Homo sapiens: one gene and its partner. The protein of the gene in region 1 purifies or fractionates together with the protein of each later gene. This does not show direct contact. Each region holds a gene or a part of one and is shown in the gene's direction. Other genes may lie near its edges.

Region 1 (11,422 bases):
ACATGTTTTGTATTCTCTAGTCTTTTAAATTTGCTAGGAAGTATTTTATTTACCAGAATGTGAGATATCTTGGTGAATATTCCATGTGAACTTGAGAAGAATGTATATTCTGCTGTTACTGAATGAATTATTCTGGATTTCAATTAAGTCCAGTTGTTTTGATGGTGCTGTTCAATTTAATTATGTCCTTCCTGATTTCTGCCTGCTGGATCTCTAAATTAATGCTGGGGGTTATTGAAATATACAGCTGTACCAGTGAATTCATGTATTTCTTCCTGCAGTTGTATTAGTTTTCCCCTCATATATTTTGCCACTCTGTGGTTATGTACATACACAGTAAGGATTGCCTTGTCTTCTTGGTGAATTAACCCCTTTGTCAGTATGTAATGCCCTTCTATCACTGATAATTTCATGCTATGAAGTCAGCTTTTTCTGAAATTAATAAGGCTGTGCCAGCTTTTAAAAAATTAGTGTTGGCCGGGCATGGTGGTTCATGCTTGTAATCCCAGCACTTAGGGAGGCCAAGGCGGGCACATCACGAGGTCGGGAGTTTGCCACCAGCCTAACCAACGTGGTGAAACCCTATCTCTACTAAAAATATAAAAATTGACCAGGCATGGTGTCTCACGCTTGTAATCTCAGCACTTTGGGAGGCAGGCGGATCGCCTGAGGTCAGGAGTTTGAGACCAGCCTGGCCAACATGGTGAAACCCTGTCTCTACTAAAAATACAAAAATTAGCCAGGCGTGGTGGCAGGTGCCTGCAATTCCAGCTACTCAGGAGGCTGAGGCAGAAGAATCGCTTGAACCTGGGAGGCGGAGGTTGTAGCGAGCCGAGATTGCGCCATCGCACTCCAGCCTGGGCAACAAGAGCGAAACTTCGACTCAAACAAACAAACAAACAAAAAATATTAGCTGGGTGTGGTAGTGTGCGCCTGTAATCCCAGCTACTCAGGAGACTGAGGCAGGAGAATCGCTTGAACCCGGGAGGTGGAGGTTGCAGTGAGCCAAGATTGCGCCACTGCACTCCAGCCTGGGTGGCAGAGTGAGACTTTGTCTCAAAATAATAATAATAATAATTAGTGTTAGCATAGTATATCTTTCTCTATTCCTTTATTTTTAATATATCTTTGTGATATATTTATTTATTATTACTTTTTATTATTATACTTTAAGTTCTAGGGTACATGTGCACAACGTGCAGGTTTGTTACATATGTGTACATGTGCCATGTTGGTGTGCTGTACCCATTAACTGGTCATTTACATTAGGTATATCTCCTAATGCTATCCCTCCCCCCTCCCCCCAATCTTTGTGATATATTTAAAGTGGATTTGTTGGCCTAGGTATGGTGGCTCGCACCTGTAATCCCAGCATTTTGGGAGGCTGAGGCAGGATGATTGCTTGAGGCCAGGAGTTTGAGACAAGCCTGGGCAACATAGTGAGACCCCATCTCTATAAAAAGAAACAAAATTATCAAGGGATGGTAGTGCACACCTGTAGTTCCAGCTACTCAGAGGCTGAGGTGAGAGTCCTTTGAGCCCAGGAGTTTGAGGTTATAGTCATCTGTCATCCCACAACTGCACTCCAGCCTGGGTGACAGAGCATGGCCCTGTCTCTAAAAAACAAAGTAAAAAAAAAAAAAAAAGCGAATTTCTTGCAGACAACATATATTAGGTATTCTTTTTTCTTTTTCTTTTTTTTTTTTTGAGATGGAGTTTTATTCCTGTTGCCCAGGCTGGAGAGCCATGGCGCGATCTCGCCTCACTGCAACCTCTGCCTCCCAAGTTCAAGTGATTCTCCTGCCTCGTGAGTAGCTGGGATTACAGGCATGTGCCGCTGCACCTGACTAATTTTGTATTTTTAGTAGAGACAGGGTTTCTCCATGTTGGTCAGGCTGGTCTTGAACTCCTGACCTCAAGAGGTCCTCCTGCCTCGGCCTCCCAAAGTTCTGGGATTACAGGCGTGAGCCACGCCTGGCCAGGTGTTCTTTTTTATCCACTATGACAGTATCAGTGAGCTGAGATTGTGTCACTGCAATCCAGCCTAGGCAACAGAGTAAGACTCTGTCTCAAAAAAAAAAGAAAAGAAATAAATTTCTGGTCTGATAATTCCAGCATCTCTTTTATATCTCAGTCTGGTTCTGATGCCTGCACTCTCTCTTCAAACCGTCTAAGTCTTTTAATATATCTTGTAATTTTTGTTGAGATCTGGGCATGGTGTTGAAAAGGAACTGAGGTAAACAGGCTTTAAATGTGAGGGTTTAGGTTTATCCTGTTGATTTTAGGCTGTGTTTACTATTTTCAGTAACTGTAGGTGTCAGATAAAATTGCCTTTGGTGTCCCTGGTTTTCTGTGTTCTGTCATTTTTGGGGTTCTCTAGAGATTTCTTCAATTGTGAAACATGCAGAAAGAAATAGAATATTGTTTCATTGTATTCTACTGTTTTATTTTATTTTATTTTATTTTATTTTTTGAGGTGGAGTTTCGCTCTGTCGCCCAGGCTGGAGTGCAGGGGCACGATCTTGGCTCACTGCAACCTCTGCCTCCCAGGTTTAAGCGATTCTCTTCCCTCAGCCTCCCAAGTAGCCGGGATTACAGGTGCCCACCACACCCGGCAAATTTTTGTATTTTTAGTAGAGATGGGGTTTTGCTATGTTGGCCAGGCTGGTCTCAAACTCCTGATGTCAAGTGATCTGCCCGCCCCCCGCCTCCCAAAGTGCTGGGATTACAGTCGTGAGCCACCACACCTGGCCTGTTCTACTGTTTTAAAACAAAAACCCAGGCCAGGAGTGGTGACTCATTCCTGTAATCCTAGCATTTTGGGAGGCCAAGGCAGGCAAATTACTTGAGGTAGGAGTTCGACACCATCCTGGCCAACATGAAGAAACACCCTGTCTCTACTAAAAATACAAAAATTAGCTGGGTGTGGTTGTGTATGCCTGTAATCCCAGCTACTCTGTTGGCTGAGGCAGGAGAACTGCTTGAATGCTGGAGGCAGGGGTTGTAGTGAGCCAAGATTGCACCACTGCACTCCAGCCTGGGTGACAGAGCGAGACTGGGTCTCAAAATAAAAACAAAACTCTAATGTCACACTGTTACCAGTGGCTGGAGTGGAAACATGATATAATCCTATGAATCATCTGTCTTCTGGTGAGCCTGTGCCCCGAGCCATGATGTTCTTTGCTATGATAAGAAAGACATTTGTTTGGTCTTTGTGTGTGGTTCCTAGTACAGAGTTCCTAAATCTCTTGGAATTTCATGAGTGATAAGGGTAATGGACCCTCTCTTGTTGTAAATAAATGACTACTGGAAAGAATGCCTACCTAACTTCAGGGTGGGGATTGATGTCCCGAAAGACACCCAGTCTTGATCTTCCTCTAGCCCTAGCCCCCAAAGTCGGGGGAGAGAAAAAGGGCTGGAGGTTTAGTGCTTGGACTCCTGACCTCAAATGATCTGCCCACCTCTGCCTCCCAAAGTGCTGGGATTATAGGCGTGAGCCACCCCGCCTGGCTTTTGACTGCTCACAGCTTTAAAACCTCATTCCTCAGTTTCCACTGTGTACCCCACATATGGACGTGGTAGGAAGAAAGCCTGGGTCACCCTCATTTGGTGCTGGCGACAGAGCCAATTCGCATCAGCCTCCACCTGTATGCTTGAACTCACACTAGCCCACTCCCTAATGTCAGTAAAAATCCCCAGCCAGGCTCCTTTTCTTGCTCTCCGAAGCCACTTCACAAGTGCTTGAGAGTTACACAGCTTTGCCTGAGAGCTCAAGCATGCGAGTAATAAACCTTCATGAGTACAGGGGTTTATAGAGGTCCAAGTTGCTGTGCTTTCTTTCCAATAACCTCCTAGACCCATGAAATGAGACAGAAAGGAAAAACTGAACCTATGATAAATATTACACAAACACGTTGAAATTAATACTAATGCAGAAGAATATTTTCATTCAGCCACCTGGATTTGCATGGTTCTAATGGCCCGAGATCCTTCAGGGCAACATGGCCAGTGACTTCTGGCTTTTCACAGACTTCCTGATCTCTCATGTTGTTTATGAAAAAGAAAAATACACAGTTTTTCATCCTCAATGGGAGATGTGCAGCTTATAGTCTAAAGGGTGTATTCATTTATTAAAATCTCATCCAGATTTGACCCCAAGTTTCATGAAATGCTGAGTGGTACAGTATGTAATAAGGTAGAAAATGAAAGAGTTTTTCTCACGAGGAATTGATGATCTTACAATTTGTTTCATTTGTACAGCATTTCTCTCATATATCCAAGATGGTCTTGGGTCTGTATTTAAAGAGCAATAAGGTGGCCGGGCGCGGTGGCTCACGCCTGTAATCCCAGCACTTTGGGAGGCCGAGGGGGGCGATTCACGAGGTCAGGAGATCAAGACCATCCTGGCTAACATGGTGAAACCCCGTCTCTACTAAAAATACAAAAAATTAGCTGGGCGTGGTGGCACGCGCCTGTAGTCCCAGCTACTTGGGAGGTTGGGGCAGGATAATCACTGGAACCTGGGAGGAGGAGGTTGCAGTGAGCCAAGATCGCACCATTGCACTCCAGCCTGAGCAACAGAGCAAGACTCCATCTCAAAAAAAATAAAAAGAAAAAGAACAATAAGGCTTCAAGTGATCACAGTTAAAATATAGAAATAATGGCAGGGTGCGGTGGCTCACGCCTGTAATCCCAGCACTCTGGGAGGCCGAGGCGGGCGGATCACGAGGTCAGGAGATGGAAACCATCTTGGCTAACACGGTGAAACTCTGTCTCTACTAAAAATACAAAAAATTAGCTGGGTGTGGTGGTGGGCGCCTGTAGTCCCAGCTACTCGGGAGGCTGAGACAGGAGAATGGTGTGAACCCAGGAGGCGGAGCTTTCAGTGAGCCGACATTGTGCCACTGCACTCCAGCCTGGGCGACAGAGCAAGAATGTTTCAAAAAAAAAAAAAAAAAAATATATATATATATATATATAGAGAGAGAGAGAGAGAGAGAGAGAGAGAGAGAGAGCGCAATAATTTTTGTATGTTCACGATAGTGTTAAATTTATGAGGAAGTGAGTATGGAAAGAGTCAAGAGTTCTGACAACCAAGTTATACCACTAAACCGAGACTACAGGATTATATGGAATTTCTCAGGAATTCTGAGAATGGATCCTCACTACTGCGAATCTCTCTCCTCCTCCTAAACACACATGGGGGATGTTTTAGGACTCCATCTCCCTTGAGGATGTGGCTGTGAACTTCACCCTGGAGGAGTGGGCTTTGCTGGATCCTGGCCAGAGGAATATCTACAGAGATGTGATGCGGGCAACCTTCAAGAACCTGGCCTGTATAGGTAAGGGTGACATAATTTCTCTACTTAATTAAGGAGGGAACAGGTGTTTCTTGCACAACAACTGAGTTCCAAGGTTTAAAATGGGGGAAGGGGCCAGGCACGGTGGCTCGCGCCTGTAATCCCAGTGCTTTGGGAGGCTGAGGCGGGCGGATTAAGAGGTCAGGAGTCTGAGACCAGCCTGACCAACATGGTGAAACCCTGTCTCTACTAAAAATAAAAAATTAGCCAGGCCTGGTGGCAGGTGCCTGTAATTCTGGCTACTCAGGAGGCTGAGGCAGGAGAATTGCTTGAACCCGGGAGGCCGAGGTTGCAGTGAGCTGAGACCGCGCCATTGCACTCCAGCCTGGGCAACAGCGAGACTCTGTCTCAAAAAAAAAAAAAAAATGTGGGAAGAGAATACTTTAGTAAGTAGATCAGACAGTGTCATAGCTAATCAATAGCTAATCATGGATCTTAGAGTGTTATAATTTTCTATAATTTCTAATAATTTATTGTGAGTTCTCTGGGCTTGTATTTTAGGGGAAAAATGGAAAGACCAGGATATTGAAGATGAACACAAAAACCAGGGAAGAAATCTAAGGTGAGTTGCATTCACAAATAATTATATAGCCCCTGAGAGAATCTTAGTATTTCATAAATTTCAAAAGCCAAGCAAGCAAAACAATAAGCAGAGTTTCAGGTTTATTCATTCTTAGAAAATTTTTACTGAAGGTGTTTCATTGAAACTGTCATGGGCAGCCAGGCGTGGTGGCTCATGTCTGTAATCCCAGCACTTTGGGAGGCTGAGGCCAGTGGATCATGAGATCAGGAGATCGAGACCATCCTGGCCAACATGATGAAACCCTGTCTCTACTAAAAATACAAAAAATTAGCCGGGCGTGGTGGCGTGCACCTATAGTCCCAGCTACTCGGGAGGCTGAGGCAGGAGAATCGCTTGAACCTGGGAGGTGGAGGTTGCAGTGAGCTGAGATCGATCCACTGCACTGCAGCCTGGTGACAGAGCGAGACTCCGTCTAAAAAAACAACAGAAACTGTCATTGGCTGGGTAAGGTAGCGAATACCTCTAATCCCAGCCTTTGGTAGGTGAAGGCTGGAGAATTGCTTGAGGCCAGGAGTTCAACACCAGCCTGGTCAACATAGTGAAAACCTGTCTCTACAGGAAAAAAAAAAAAGCAATAGATGTTCAGGGTGTGAGAAGAAATCACTATGAAACAGCATTTAAAAATCCTGGCTGGGCGCAGTGGCTCACGCCTGTAATCCCAGCACTTTGGGAGGCTGAGGCGAGCGGATCACCTGAGGTCAGGAGTTTGAGACCCCGTCTCTACTAAAAAAGATATAAAATTAGCGGGGCGTGGTGGTGCATGTCTGCAATCCCAGCTACTTGGGAGGCTGAGGCAGGAGAATCACTTGAACCCAGGAGGCGGAGGTTGCAGTGAGCTGAGATCACGCCACTGCACTCCAGCCTGGGCAACAGAGAGACTCCGTCTCAAAAATAATAATAATAATTTTTTTTTAACTATTTTGATAATAGCTATGGTCACGGCCTGTTCTAGACTATTGAGTATATTAGCTTTCAAAACAATTTAGACAGGGCAGATAACATACAGTTTCTGTGAAAATATTTAAAATGTAATTCTGGTACTTGCTAATAAATATAAGATCATTAATACAAAACTATTAATAATACGGTACTCATTCTTTACAGAAGTCCTATGGTTGAAGCACTCTGTGAAAATAAAGAAGATTGTCCATGTGGAAAAAGCACTAGCCAGATTCCTGATCTTAATACGAACCTGGAAACTCCTACTGGATTAAAACCATGTGACTGCAGTGTGTGTGGGGAAGTCTTCATGCATCAGGTCTCCCTTAATAGGCACATGAGATCTCACACTGAACAGAAACCAAATGAGTGTCACGAATATGGAGAGAAGCCACATAAATGCAAAGAATGTGGGAAAACCTTCACTCGCAGCTCCAGTATTCGAACCCATGAAAGAATTCACACTGGAGAGAAACCCTATGAATGTAAGGAATGTGGCAAAGCCTTCGCATTTCTCTTTTCCTTTCGAAACCATATAAGAATTCATACTGGAGAGACACCCTATGAATGTAAGGAATGTGGGAAGGCATTCAGATATCTCACTGCTCTTCGGCGCCATGAAAAAAATCACACTGGAGAGAAACCCTACAAATGTAAACAGTGTGGAAAAGCCTTTATATATTACCAGCCTTTTCTAACCCACGAAAGGACTCACACTGGAGAGAAACCTTATGAATGTAAGCAATGTGGGAAAGCCTTCAGTTGTCCCACGTACTTACGGAGTCATGAGAAAACTCATACTGGAGAGAAACCTTTTGTATGTAGGGAATGTGGGAGAGCCTTCTTTTCTCACTCAAGCCTTCGAAAACACGTGAAAACCCACACCGGAGTTCAACCTTATACATGTAAGAAATGTGGGGAAGCCTTCAAGTCATCTAGTTCCTGTGAAGTGCACGAAAGAACTCATTTTGGAGAAAAACCCTATGAATGTAAACAATGTGGTAAAGCCTTCAATTCTTCAAGTTACCTTCAGTTGCACGAAAGAGTTCACACTGGCGAGAAAACTTACGAATGTAAAGAATGTGGTAAAGCCTTTCTTTATTCCACTCACTTTCGAATCCATGAAAGAACCCATACTAGAGAGAAACCCTATGAATGCAAACAGTGTGGTCGGGTCTTCATTTACTTCAGTCACCTTCGAAGGCACGAAAGAAGTCACACTGGAGTGAAACCATGTGAGTGTAAGCAGTGTGGCAAAGCTTTCACTTGTTTAAATTCCCTGAAAGTACACAAAAGAATTCATACTGGAGAAAGACCCTTTCAGTGTAGACAATGTGGTAAAGCCTTCAGTTACTCAAAGTCTTTGCACGTGCACGAAAGGACTCATAGTAGACAGAAGCCCTAAGAAAGTAAAGTGTGGTAATGCTGTCAGTTGTATTAGTTCCTTTTGGATGTATGAGAGTACTTACGCTGGAGAGAAATTCAAGGAATGTAAACGGTGTGATTAAGCCTTCAGTTGTCCTAATTCCCTTTGAAGACGTGACTCATGCGGCAATGAAATATTTAACAAATGGGGGAGGAACTTGCACTCTCCTGCGGGATTGCAGATATGTGAATGGACTCCATGGACAGAAAAGCTACGAATGTATGGAGTGTAGGAAAGCCTTCACTTCACGTAATCTTTTAAAGACACCTGAGAATATATACTGGAGAGAAACTATAAAGAAAATTCTATATCCATCCCATCTTTTGTGGGGTTTGTTTTTTGTTTTTGTTTTTGTTGAGATGTAATTTTGCTCTTGTTGCCCAGGCTGGAGTGCAGTGGTGCGATCGCGGCTCACCGCAACCTCCGCCTCCCGGATTCAAGCAATTCTCCTGCCGCAGCCTCCCAAGAAGCTGGGATTACAGGCATGCGCCACCACGCCTGGCTAATTTTGTAATTTTAGTAGAGATGGGGTTTCTCCATGTTGGTCAGGCTGGTCTCAAACTCCTGACCTCAGGTGATCTGCCTGCCTCGGCCTCCCAAAGTGCTGGGATTACAGGTGTGAGCCACAGCACCCAACCTTTTTTTCCCCGCCGCACCCCAAGATGGTGTCTCACTCTGTTGCCCCAGGCTGGAGTGCAGTGGTGTGATCCTGGCTCACTGTAACCTCTGGGTTCAAGCAATTCTTCTGCCTCAGCCTTCCAAGTAGCTGGGATTACAAGTGCCCACCACCATGCCCAGCTAATTTTTATATTTTTAGTAGAGACAGTGTTTCACCATGTTGACCAGGCTGATCTTAAACTCTTGACCTCAAATGATCCACCCACCTTGGCCTCCCAAATTGTTCGTTTTACTTTTTTTTTTTTTTTTTTTTGAGCTGGAGTCTTACTCTGTTGCCTAGGCTGGAGTGAAAGTGGCGCAACCTCTGCCTCCCAGGTCAAAGCAATCCTGCCTCAGGCCCCCTAGTAGCTGGCATTACAGGCACATGCCACCACGCCCAACTAATTTTTATATTTTTAGTAGAGACGGGGTTTCACCATGTTGGCCAGGCTGGTCTTGAACTCCTGACCTCAGGTAATCCACCTGCCTTGGCCTCCCAAAGTGCTGGGATTACAGGCGTGAGCCACCACACCCGGCCCCCAGTTCTTTTTTTTTTTTTTTGAGACGGAGTCCTTGCCCAGGCTGGAGTGCAGTGGCGCGATCTCAGCTCACTGCAAGCTCCGCCTCCTGGGTTCACGCCATTCTCCTGCCTCAGCCTCCCGAGTAGCTGGGACTACAGGCGCCCGCCACCACGCCCGGCTCATTTTTTGTATTTTTAGTGGAGACGGGGTTTCACCGTGTTAGCCAGGATAGTCTTGATCTCCTGACCTCGTGATCCGCCCTCCTCGGCCTCCCAAAGTGCTGGGATTATAGGCGTGAGCCACCGCGCCCGGCCTCCAGTTCATTTTAAAACCATGAAACCACCCACACTGGAGAGCCACCTTCTTAAATGTAAGCAATATGGGAACATCTTCAATGACATCTGCAACCATTGTCGAGATTCTTCGTAGGAAGAATTAAAGGAATGGGGAAGAAGGACTTGGGCCCCAGCAGGCCTTTTGTGGCATCCAGTCAGAAGTTAGGAAACACCCTCTAGGGCAGTGCCTGCCCTCAGCTCTCACACATGACTGGAGAGAAGTGAGAAGACTCCCAGAATCTGCCTTTTAAGTTTCCATCAGTGTCCTCGGGTCAGACTGTGGGAATGCTGTACTTCTAAGACAAAGGTTCGCATCTTACAGTTTTTCCCCAAGTGGGATCTGCCTATGCACATCCTAATTCACAGACATTGTCAGCATTGCATTATTCCAGGGCTGTTTTGAGGTCATCTCCAGCTCCATTTCCCATCTCAAACCTACACTTTGGACACTTGTTTAAACATTCACATCTGAATTTCTCTGTGGCAACCGCAGGTGGCTCTGAGGTGAGAGACTGAAGAAGCAGAGCCTGTATCATGGGACACACACCCCTTGACCACACAGCATCCACTCTCCTGCGGTTACCAGCCCTGCACCAACCACCACAGTCAGAATAATCTCAAAACTGCTAGTGGAGTCACAGACACACTCTGCCATGTCTTAGCTGTAGGACACTCAGAATTCTTACCTCCCCTAACTTGCTTTCCCTGTTTTCTGGCACATTCTACCCTGAGATATTCAGCGGCATATGCACTGATGATGCTCCGGCCTTCTCACGTCAGTGCATGTCACATGCATCCTGCTCCAGGACTGGTTTCCTAGCCTCCCGCTAAGACTAGCACTTAGCTCTTCTTGGAAAAGGACCCACCCTGCAGCGCTCCAGCTCTGTTGTGTATGGGAGGTGCTGGTGTCAGGGTTCACAAGCCATGGAACTACCTTGCTTCACATCACAAGGCAAGGTGAACTCAACTCCCAATAAACTGCTTGCTGGAGCCTCCGAATTCTCCGTTTTCTGAATTGCATAGGCACGATAGGGGTCGGGTCTGTCCTTTGTTGGAGTCAGTCCCCCCTTTTCTTAGCAAGTCAGTGTGTTTTAGAAGGGAGGTGGCAGCATTGAGGGAAACCAGGTCACCATCCACCCTCGTAACAACAGTCTCCCTGGGTGGGTCCCAGAAGTGATCTTTGTGTCGCTCGGGTCGGAACTCTTTAGGCCTCTGGCCTCCACCCTCCCCCAACAGCAGGGATGGGTCAGGTGGCAGCATCCAAAACCACGGTGAAGATACTAGGGTCCAGAGGCCGACTGGAGCAAGGTTTGCTGGCAGATGAGGCCTCAGTGGAAGTGACGGCTACTGTGGAGATGCAGTGGAGGACCTGGTGGCTGAGCCAGGAGATGCACACCTTCGCTTCTCTCACCAGGAACATTCGCTTCTCTCACCAGGAACATTTATGGTAGTATGAGGGGTTGGAACATTATTACTCAACCCATTTCAGGTCCTTTCACATTCTTGAGCTGCCATGTTGTGCTTTTGTAGAGAGATGATTATTGTACTGTGGGAGGTCAGGAAGTTCGAGATTCCTTCACTGTCAGAATGGGCTCAAGGAG
Region 2 (11,436 bases), on another chromosome or scaffold:
GACTTCACTGTCCATTCCCCACCCCGGTGGGTGGCCCGGGTGCATGCAGAGGGGACAGGTACCTGGCTCAGCCACAGGTGGAACAGCGTCGGCACTTGCCTGGGGCTCACGGTGGTTCTGGGAGGGAGGCGGTCGAGTCGGGTCACAGACGTGTCCTGCGGGCCCCATGCAGGCATCGTGCCTTCTTTCTAGTCATCAGTTCCCGTGGTCTCCCTCAGTCTTCATTCCCCCTGCGGTGCCCAGACAGCAGAGCACGTGGAGAGCTGGTGTCCTGGAGAAAGCTACTGGACAGGCCCAGCCTCCTGTCCCCACACTGCCCACCCCTCCTCTCAGCTGTCCCGCCCGCTCGCTAGACACCGTGTAGACCCTTAGAGGGAGCCCGATGCTTCCCAGCTGGGTTCCAGGTTTTCTGCTCCATTTCCTGGGCACCACAAGGTGGTGATGGCAGTGCCTCTTGTTTGGAGTTAGAAGTGGTTCAGGACCCAGTGATTGAACTGTTGCTTCCTCTGTGTGGCCAGAGGGACCCACTTTGTGCTGATGCTCCAGGAGGAGGCTGGATTGAGTTGCTGGAGGCCAAGCTTGTCCTAATTTACCAACTTTCCTAAGCTGATCACCTCCAGATGAGCACTGTTTGCCAATGCGTCTCCACTGCCCAAATTAATCCAACTCAACCACCCTCGGTCATTCTGGAGTGTGCATCCTCGTGCCCAGCAGTTCACACTCACTCTTCGAATGGTCTAACCCAACTCAAGCCCTGCCTTCCCCACGAAGGAGCTTCTCTGCAGGCTGCGGAATTGGCGTGCTTGCAGCGGCACGGTCCAGGCCTCCGGCTCTCAGGCTTCACTGTCCTGCATTGCTCTCATTTCCTGTATCCCCCGGGGCTTCGTACAGTCACTGCCCACCTAGCAGAGCAAGGACAAAGGTCAGCTGATGACCCTTACGTGAGCACAGACAGCAGCTTTGCTTCCACCCACCTCACCCTCCATCGCCCAGGACCTGGTGCTGGGGACTGAGCAGGACACTGGAGGGGATGACCACATGCTGTTTTGACCTTAGCACCCCTACAAAGACAGGGTGATGTGTGTATATGTCAATAAAGTTTATTTTTAAAATGCAGATCACTCACCAAAGGGGGCTAGACACCAGGATGGCTGACATAGCACAGTGATCCCCCTAGAGAGAAAGCTGCCAAGGCCAGGCCCTCCTTCCCAATCATGACCTAGAAACAGCTTTCCTCCACTGGCCTTCCCCAGCTCCACACTGTGACTGTCCACAGTGGAAACTGCGAGTCACGCCCTGCTGTAACAGGCATTCAAAACTAGTTGCCTATGTATTTATAGGTCTATATTAATGTCATCGATATTTATAAAGTTGGACGTGCAGGTACGTTGGGCACCTTAATAGAAGGGTTATCAGCTGGTGATCATCATTGCTGTACCAGGTGAAGCACTGGACTAAGCCCAGGGGATGTATTAATTTATAGTCTAGCTCGGTAGCAAGCATAGCTTTTATATAATAGGCCGGGCGCGGTGGCTCACGCCTGTAATTCCAGCACTTTGGGAGGCCAAGGCGGGCGGAACACCTGAGGTCAGGAGTTCAAGACCAGTCTGGCCAACACGGTGAAACCCTGTCTCTACCAAAAATACAAAAATTAGCTGGGCCTGGTGGCGCATGCCTGTAATCCCAGCTACTTGGGAGGCTGAGGCAGGAGAATCGCTTGAACCTGGGAGGCGGAGGTTGCAGTGAGCTGAGATCACACACTCCAGCCTGGACAACAGAGTGAGACTCCATCTCAATAAAATAAATAAAGTTAGAGAAAGACTTGAGATCACAACAATAGCTAATAATAATTGCACACTCAATATGTGCCAAGAATTTTTCAAATAGTTTTATATGTAGTGACTCATATACTCTCTGAAACAACTCCATGGGGCATGATCTATTTCAGCTTTACAGGTTAAGAAACTGAGGCACAGAGAGGTTAAGTAACTTGCCCAAGCTGACAGCTGGCTAGACCAGAATTTGAGCACTGGCTGTTTGCCTGGAGAACCTCTGCTCACAGCCGTGAGTCTCTGGCTCTGCCTGTGTCGATTGGAGAGATTAAGGACTATGGTCCTATATGTTTTTTTGTTTTGTTTTGTTTTGAGAAGGAGTCTCGCTCTCGTCATCCAGGCTGGAGTGTAATGGCGTGATCTCGACTCACTGCAACCTCCGCCTCCCAGGTTCAAGTGATTCTCCTGCCTCAGCCTCCCGAGTAGCTGGGATTACAGGCACCCGCCACCATGCCCGGCTAATTTTTGTATTTTTAGTAGAGATGGGGTTTCACCACATTGGCCAGGCTGGTCTCAAACTCCTGACCTCAAATGATCCACCAGCCTTGGCCTCTCAAAGTGCTGGAATTACAGGCGTGAGCCACCGCACCTGGCCAAAAATTTTTAACAATTTTATATGTAAAAAAACTGGTGTAGCGGTGTCAGGCATATGATACATTTCATTTGTTGAGTTAAACAAATGTTTAAAAACCACCAAAGACTAGCATGAGGAAAAGGCTGGTCTCCTTCCCTGGAACCAGGATAAATCACTGAGGAAGTCAGAGGCAGGGCCAAGACTAAAATTCAAGTCACACAACAGCACTCCATGGAAAATCTACATACTCCTATGATAAAGTTCTACTAGACAGTCCAGATACATCATCCCCTAATTTGTGGGTATGTAAGCAAATGTGAAGCATGTCTCTAACCTGGTCATTCACTGTGCTATAAGGCCCACTGCCAGTGAATAAGTTCAGCAGTTACTCTTCAAGGATATATGGTCTTTTTTGAACTTTAATGCTGCCTGTTTTGGGTGAGAATAACATGAAGTGAGAGTCAATGTTTCATATTTAGTAGGAATTAACTTATTCGCTGATGATCAGACTTCCCTCTTTATGAGAAAAATTAGCCAATTTTTTTTTTCTTAAAAGCTGGAGGTGGCTGGAGAGGTGGTTGAGGATGTCTATCATGCTTTGCACAGCAGTAGGTTTGTATTTGAATTATAACAAAACCAGAGCCCAGGAGACGTGCTAATTGGAAAAGTACTGATCTAAGGCGGGCGGGCGGGCGGTCCACAGGGCTGCGGGCATAGCCCTCAGTGATTAATTACATCTTAATCCCATCTAGTATCTTTCAGGAAGAATTAAGTGTTCACAAGGAAATTCACTGATAGCCATGGAAGCTCTTGTCTGTTGTTTTTTAAATTTTCAACTCATTTATTTTTAATTTCAAACCTACGGAACAACCCATATAGCCTTCACCTAGATTCACCAGTTTTGCCACATCTGCTCTCTCTCGGTCTCTGTCACGTTTGCAGATATCACAATATTTCACCCTAAATCCTTCAGAACAATTTGGTGAGAACAATGAATGGCACGGGCTACCATACTTTCAATACAATGATCACCCTTGGGAAATTTAACATTGATCCAATACTATTATCCGGTATCACTGTTCACGTTCAGATTTTCCATTTTCCTCAATAACAACCTTTATAGTTGTTTTTTCTTTCTTTCTGCCCATTTTTCAAAGTTGTATATTGCATTAATTGTTAATAATGAAAATTTGACACTTTAAGATAAAACTTTTTTTTTTCTTTTAACATTTTGGAGATGAATCTGCCTTAAGAGGTATTATTTCTAGATTGTTCTGAAGGATTATAGTGGACACATTGACAATCCTCTTGAAGACGAGATATGACGATTATTGTGTAAGTGAATTCCAGCCGTGGGCTGTATGTAGTAATAGGAGAAATGGCCTGGGGGAGGTTGAAGTCTTTGGTTTACTTTCAGTTATTCGCACTTGCTGTGGACCTGTCACTTTTTTAGTGTAAACAACCTTTTATTCACATATGCCGAGGACTGTTTCATGTCCTGAGGCCCACAGAACCAGTCATCTGGCCATTTTGGAACTGTGAGTGATGTCACTGGAGGTGCGTGTATAGAGGGAATGTCCATTAGCTGTAGTGGTGGTGGTGGGAGTGGGGTTGGGCGGAGACCTGAATACAGAGAAGGTTGTGGAAAACCTGGGAAGTGTTTGAAGATAGAGTACAGAAGGCCTTGGGAACAGGCTTCAGGGACAGGAGGCTGGAGGGAGGCATGAAGTCGCAGGTGGGGACAAGCAGGGAGACAGTGGACGCCGGGGATGCTCCAGAAAGGTCTGGGGGGCCATGGGATGGCCTACTATAGTGCAACATGGAAGCCACTGTAGAATGCTGGGCCAGGCAGAGAAACCAGCCTTCACAGATCAACACTTGCCTAATCTGTCTCCGGCTGCCCGGCGTTGCAGCCTATGGATGTGCCCAGGTGCATCCAACACTTCCCATGGGATGGCACGTAGTATGTAAGCAAATGTGATGATCACATATGCCATTCATACAAGCGAGTCCGTCTCTGGCACCATTCCTGCATGTGGGTCAAAGGCTATGTGCATTTAGAATTTTTATGGATATCCACAAATATCTGAATGGAAACTACGCTAATTTATTCTCCTACCCGTAAAGGAGCTTGTTTCTCTAGTTTCTTCAAAATTATGCTATTAAAACTTTTTTTTGTTTGTTTTTGTTTGAGACAGGGTCTCACTCTGTTGCCCAGGCTGGAGTGCAGTGACACGATCACAGCTCACTGCAGCCTCAAACTGTGGGACTCAAGTGACCCTCCTGCCTCAGCCTCCTGAGTAGCTGAGACTACGGGCACGTGCCACCGAGCCCAGCTAAGTTTTTTAGAGACAAGGTCTGGCTATGTTGCCCAGGTTGTATTAAACGTTTTAAAAAATCTTTGCTAATCTAATAAAAATGATCCCACTGCGACTTTTTTTCTCTTATTGCAGCGTAGTTGAATAGCTTCTCATATGCTTAAGAACCATTGAATTTCCTACGAACTGTCCATCCACACACTTTGCTCATTTTTCTATATACATATATATTTTTATTGGTTCACAAGAGTTTCACGTACATGAGGGAAACGAGCCCTTTTGTGGCATCAATTTAAAATCATTTTCCCCGGTTCATCACTTCTCTTTATGAATGTAGGTTTTTGCCAGGCAGCAATGAACAAGACAGTCGGCCTCTCTGAATATGGGCGGCCAGGACTAAGGTGAAAAGTCTGTCCCTTCTCCGTCTCACGTTTTGTGATGGCACACACACTTGGTGGAGGGGGTCAAGAGAGGCCACACAGGCCCCCGGGGAAGAATGGAGAGCCAGGTCCGCGGCTGGCCCGGTGCTCACCGGTAGCGTGGCGGAGCCCGCCAGGCCAGACTCCCCTCGCGGGCACAGAGCTCGTGTCCCAGGGCCCCGCCGGCCAAATCCAGAGGTCACCGTGAGTGGGGGCAAGTCCCAGGCCTGTTCTAGAGAAAAACTCGACCCACCCACCGCCACCACTCCCCAACTCCGCAAGAAACGCGTCCGAGGAGAGGTGGAGAGGGAGCTGCCCGCGCGCGTGGGCGGCAGGGCCGTGCCACGTGGGAGGGGGGCCGCGCGCGGAATTCCCTCCGGCCAGACCCGCCCCGCGCGCGCCCGCTGCCCCGTCCACGCCGCCCGCGCCCCGCAGTCCCACCCGCAGGACCCCCGGCCGCGCCAGGGTCTCGCCTGCGCCCCCCGCGCCCGCCCGCGGACTACAAGTCCCGCCATGCCCCGCCGCCGCCCCCCGGCTTCCGGTGCTGCGCAGTTTCCGGAGCGGATCGCAACCCGGAGTCCGGATCCGATCCCGCTCTGCACATTCCAAAGGCAGGTAAAGCTCCGGGCCCTGCGCCCGCCGCCCGCCCCGGCGTGCGCCCCGCCGGCCCCGGGCCGCACCCGCTGCCCCCGCGAGCCCCGGCGCGCCCTGGGCCCGCTGCCCCCCGCCCCCCGCGCCCGGCAGCCGCGCGCCGCCCCGGTCCAGCCGCCATGCCGACTGTTCTTTGTTACATTCGCCGGCTGCGGGCACCGTTGGCGATCGGAGTCAAAACCCGGCTGGATTTCCCGGAGCCGCTCCGGGATCGCCCTGCGCGCCGCCCGCCCGCCGGGTCCCGCCGCCGCGGGCGCTCCTGGCCGGGCTCCGCGCCCCCGTCCCCTGCCTCGCGCCCCCCGCCCGCCCGCGGCCAGGCCCAGCGCGGGGCCGCGGGGCTGCCGGGCCGCGCTCGCCCGTGGGCGCGGCGCAGGGTCTTCGCCGCCCCGGCCCGCGGCCCCGCGGCCCCCGCCGCCGGGCGGCGTCGTCGCCGAGGCCCCAGGGGATGTCGTTATCCCCCGCCCTCGGGTACAGCCCATGCGGGTCGCACGGGGGGGTCCCTGGACCCCCAACCCCGCGTTTAGAGAAGCTGAGTCCTGGTGATGGGGTCTCCCAGACCCCCTGCGCCTTATTTTCGTAAGCCTTTTGGTGGCAGAGAGAAGGTAGCGAGGTGGATGGACAGGTGACGCGTGCCTACCCGGGGTGGGTGGCCGTTCGGGGACGGGGCGTGCCCGGCCGCTCAGGTGAGGCCCGCCTCGCGTGGACAGGTGGGGACGGGGGCCACGCGCAGCGTCCTGCTAGAGGGGAGGTGTTCACGCAGGGGTTAGCCTTGAGAAAATAGAAATGAAAACTCATGGAAATAAACACTCCTATCTGGTGGTTAGAGTTATCACCCATTTACCTTTCTTAACCCCCTAATGTAGTGGATGGTTTTTTCCCCCACAAATGCTCAGAAATTGCCCCTCACCCCCAAGTCCCCAAAGGGAGTTTAAAACGGTAGAAACAAGTGTGTGATCAGAGACACGTGGACCTGTGTGTGTATTTAAAGCTACCAACACTCGTTTTAAAAAAACCACATTGGCTTAAGCCAGACTCAAGTGAATTTGGAGAACCTAGCTTGGTTCCTGAAGGGTGGTGACATGTGAAGGAGCCACTGGCTTTGTGATGTACCTTAAAAGGTAGCAGTGACAGTTCTCCTTGGAGAATGCAATGATGTCAACACTCGATAAGGGTGGTGATCCCACCCCGGTGCACACACCACTACCGTATTTTGTTTCAAGCTCGGACATTTTCACGTGTTCCACGTTTTCACTGCTTCACTCCTTCCCCAGATTTCCTGACATCGCTGCCTCACGGTGAACGATTAAGAAATAGTAGCTCTATAATTTAGACTTTCAAGAGCAAAAACACCATTTTTTTTATAGTTTGTTTTTCTTCTATCTGTGATTCATACTTTTTGCCGCAAAGTAGCCAGCAAAGAACAAGCTAAATGTTCCATTTTGGAAGCAGGCGGGACGGTTATTTCTCCAGAAGACAAATAAATAAATTTAAAAATCAACTGTAGTTGGAAGGCTGCTAGCTTGTCTTAGAATAATTATATTTGACAAAGAACTCTTTTCACTTAGGATGTGGCTCTCATATCATTTTCGATGTCATTATCTGTACAGAAGGCCAGGAAAGAACAGTCCTGCCATTTTGCAGATTGAAGGGAGATTTAAGGCAACTGTGTCTTCCACCCGTGCGCTCAAGAGGTTGGGATGGTGAGCGGTGACTTAAATGATTTTTCAGACTCCGTTCCTCATTTGCAAAGTGTGGATGGCCCTGCTCAGCTCCCCTCACAGTGCTGGTGTGGGCAGATATTCATTCATTCGGCCATTCATGCATTCTTTCCACCAATGTTTACTGAACACCTGTTATGTGCCCCCACGCTGTAGTGAATGGAGAGAGGGCTGCACCTGGTGGACCTAATGTTCTGGGCAGGGGAGTGGAGGTGGTGTAGACAGAAAATCATAAAACTCTCAGGTAAGACGATGGGAAGAGCATGAAGAAAGGAAGGAGGGCAGGCAGGTGGCGGGCAGGGGATGGGGCACTTGGGGGCTGGGACTAGAAGGGGCTGTCTGAGGAGGGGCCACAGTGGAGACCAGTGCTGTGAGGGAGCCTCTGGTGGAGGTGGGTGCGGTGGTGCCTGCCCCCACCAGGCAGATGGTGGCAAATGCAAAGGCCCTGGGGTGGGATGAGCCCAGGATGGGACAGGCCAGTGTGGCCATGGAGGTGGGGCAGCAGGGGCCATGCACCAGGCAGAGATTTTCTTCTGACTGCCTTGTGGATGCCACTGAGGGGCTTTGAGCAGTGGCGGGGCAGAGTCTGCATCTTTTGGCTGTGTGTGGGGAATGGAGCTGGCATCACTGGAATCCAGGCCCTGCATGATTCCACTCCACAGAACTCGGAGGCAGAAGGGGAGATGGGGCAGGACAGAGCCTAGTTCCAGAGCCAGGCAGGCCTGCTGCTGGTTTGGTTGGAAATGCATGGTGGGTGACTGGAGCTACTATTTACTGAGGTGCAGGTGACCTGAGGCATTCAGGGGCCCTGTAGAGCAGACATCTTCAAACTCTCCCTCAGAGTGGGAGAAGACCCTGCCCCGGGGCCACGTCCGCTCCTCAAAAGGCTCCTCCTAAGGAAAGGTCCCTCCTCTTGCAGTCATGGCCCTGGGGTGTGGAAACTGCGGGGTCCCAGCAGATGTAAGGGTGTTGGGGAGTGGCTCCCCCGTGGGCCACAGGTCTGCAGCAGCTGCGGGAGCCTCTACACCAGCGGTGTTCATGGTGATCGTTGATGACAAGTTGATCTTTGATGAATTCAGGCTCAGAACTCAAGAGGATGTGGCATTGGGGGACTCTGCTGTGACCAAGCCCCTTCTGCTCCCGTCTCCTTATTTCTGGAACCAGCTTCTCTGTGCTCGCATTTCTAGAAAGAGGAATAGGGACAGAGGCGAGCATTTGTCCATGCTATGTGAACTGATTAGGGGAAAAAAGCTCTTTCTCTTCTATTAAACACAGCTTTTATATCAGATGATGATTTATCGAAGTGGAGACTATTTCTGTTTTGATCAGTGGTGTTCCAATTGTAGTCACACTGTGAAAAGGAGATATGGTTCAATGGTGGACCGCATATACCATGCTGGTCCTGTAAGATGATAGGACCGCATTTTTTACGTTACCTTTTCTATGTTTAGATAAGCAAATACTTACTATTGTGTTACAGGTACCTACAGTATTCCGTTAGTTAAGTGCTGTACAGGTTTGCAGCCTAGGAGTCGTAGGCTGGGCCGTATAGCCTAGGTGTGTAGTAGGCTATACCATCTAGGGTTGTGTATGTACACTCTATCATGTTTGCACAACTACAAAATCCCATAGCAATGCATTTCTCAGAATCCTGTCAGGAAGCTACACACGAGTGTACTGCGGTGATGATTCGGGAGACGTTAGCACAGCCCTATGGTTGTAGGAAATCAAGACGAATTCAATTTATATGCATGTTTGTGTTGCAAAAAGTTACAGTAGGGTGAATCAATAGAGTGATTTCAAGCATGAATATATAACGTTGGGTTTACATTTTGTAGTAACAGAAATAGGAGTTCCTAGAGGAAGAAGTGTATACTTTCTGGCCTTAAGAAGAGCTTGTTCGTGTGCGTTGTAAATAGATGGCCATGGCTGTCACGTCACCGTGCCTAGATTCTAATAGATATATTTACAAGAGTGACATGGCAGTTTTATTTTAACTCAGTATTTACAGTATGCTGGAAATGATGTCCCTTGCAGCTGTTTAAAACAGGGATGAACAGTTTATACTGTCAGCTGAGATGCAGGGAGTGGCATTTTAGGAAATATTTTCATGGGGATACTGGCAAAACTCAAAGAGCCTGGCTGCTCCTGGTTCCAGGCATCAGGTGGAGCTGCCGTCCGGGGCCTGGCAGGGCGAGGGGCCGCCAGGATGCCGGCTTGGGAGTTGGGGGTGGCAGGTAAGTGCTGCATGTAGAGGGACGGAGGTCTAGGTAGCCAGCTTGGGGTACCCCCTGTGGAGGCTCTGGAGGGGAGGTGCAGACAGCAAAGGGGCTTAGGAGGGAGCACGCAGTGAGAGGGACCCTCCAGGGCAGAAGGGATTTCCAGAGGAGGCAGTAAGGATGGCTTCGGGTGGAGAGGACCTGGGATTGGGCAGGGACCCTGCTGAAGCCACTCGTCCTACATGAATCCTACTCAGAGCAGGAGAAGCCAAGATCAGCGATCCTCCCGTCTTGGCCCCCCAAAGTGCTGGGATGACAGGTGTCAGCCTGTCCTGGAGTCCTCCAAGCCCGTGGGGTCTGATGAGCACAGACGGCTCAGCTCTTCCTTGCTTCCATACCCTTACATAAAACTGGAGCTCGGCTTTCTCAGAGAGGATGCTTTTATTTGCCTGAGATGCACCATCTGTTACTGGCTCCGTTTGACCGATCTCCTTGTTCATCGTGGTCCAGGTCTGCACCTGACAGCTCTGAGTGCTGACCTACTGCAGGCGTCATCAGTAAACCTTGACTAAGTGATGCGGCTCACGGCAAACTCACTGTGAGTTCAGGGTCCTTAATTCTTGATGTGGGTGGGGCCTGCAGGATGCAAATGCGGTTGGACTTTTAACTGTCCACTCACTGGACCAGAGTCTGCTTTTGAGAAGGGGTGTTTCAGGTGTCTCGTAACCCTCTGGCCTCTGGCCTTTTGTAAGTTTCAAAAAAAAAAAAAAATATATATATATATATATATATATGCATGCTGCTTAGTTATAGTAGGTTTGTCTTTTATTGTGACCAAAAACATAAATGTTATTTTAGCACCACGTTAGGCAAGAGGTCAACAGGGTCCTTGTTCTGAGCAGGCCGCCTCAACTCTGACTGTTAGCTGGTCCTGTCATCTGGATGCCTCTTGTCTCCCTGGGTCCCTATCCCCCAGCACATCTGACCTGCAGGCTTTGCTCTCTGCCTATTCTCATTCTGTCTGCTTTTTGAAATACGCTAAACCAGCACTCACAGCCTCTCCACCATCCAAGCCCTCTAGGGTCGCACAAGCCTCATCGTTAAGTAGGAGTCAGTCCTCCCGCCCTTTTTTTTTTAAATTAAGCAAACACAGGACAGCCAGTTAGAGCAGCCATCAGTGTGGTAGAGTCTACACTACCTCAGTTTGCTTTTTTTTTTTTTTTTTTCCCGAGACAGAGTCTTGCTTCGTCACCTAGGCTGGAGGGCAGTGGTGCGATCTCCATCTCGTCTCACTGCAACCTCGGCTCACTGCAGCCTCTACCTCCTGGGTTCAAGCAATCTTCCCACCTCAGCCTCCCGAGTAGCTATGACTACAGGCATGTGCCACCATGCCTGGCTAACTTTTGTGTTTTCTGTAGAGATGGGGTTTCTCCGTGTTACTCAAGGTGGTCTCAAAATTCCTGGGCTTCAGCAATCCTCCCACCTTGGCCCCCCAAAGTGCTGGGATGACAGGTATAAGCCACCGTGCCCAGCAGAGTTTCCATTTTTAAGATGGTAGAGGGCACACCTTTCTCTCCCTCTTAAAGAACCAGATGTGAAAATGAGAAATATAGATGTCATCTTTGATGAAACTAAGAGGTTCAGAAAGTGAGAACGGAGAAGAAATCATAAACAGTACAAGAAAACAGTAGGGCTGAAGGGCATG

Evidence for each region.
Region 2: the proteins of ZNF490 (region 1) and PRDM15 purify together in Homo sapiens (affinity purification with mass spectrometry; 2 studies listed by BioGRID and IntAct, with this or other methods). This does not show direct contact.

Annotation. Positions count from the first base shown.
Region 1 is NC_000019.10:12,577,350-12,588,771, reverse strand, and holds part of ZNF490 (zinc finger protein 490), read left to right. Parts: intron 1-5,215; coding exon 5,216-5,342; intron 5,343-5,861; coding exon 5,862-5,922; intron 5,923-7,047; coding exon 7,048-8,287; 3' UTR 8,288-11,422. UniProt on the Homo sapiens protein: May be involved in transcriptional regulation.
Region 2 is NC_000021.9:41,873,592-41,885,027, reverse strand, and holds the start of PRDM15 (PR domain zinc finger protein 15), read left to right. Parts: upstream 1-5,683; 5' UTR 5,684-5,758; intron 5,759-5,887; exon of another isoform or gene 5,888-6,032; intron 6,033-6,167; exon of another isoform or gene 6,168-6,271; coding exon of another isoform or gene 6,272-6,333; intron 6,334-6,455; exon of another isoform or gene 6,456-6,477; intron 6,478-6,504; exon of another isoform or gene 6,505-7,491; coding exon of another isoform or gene 7,492-7,494; intron 7,495-7,845; exon of another isoform or gene 7,846-10,329; intron 10,330-11,436. UniProt on the Homo sapiens protein: Sequence-specific DNA-binding transcriptional regulator. Plays a role as a molecular node in a transcriptional network regulating embryonic development and cell fate decision.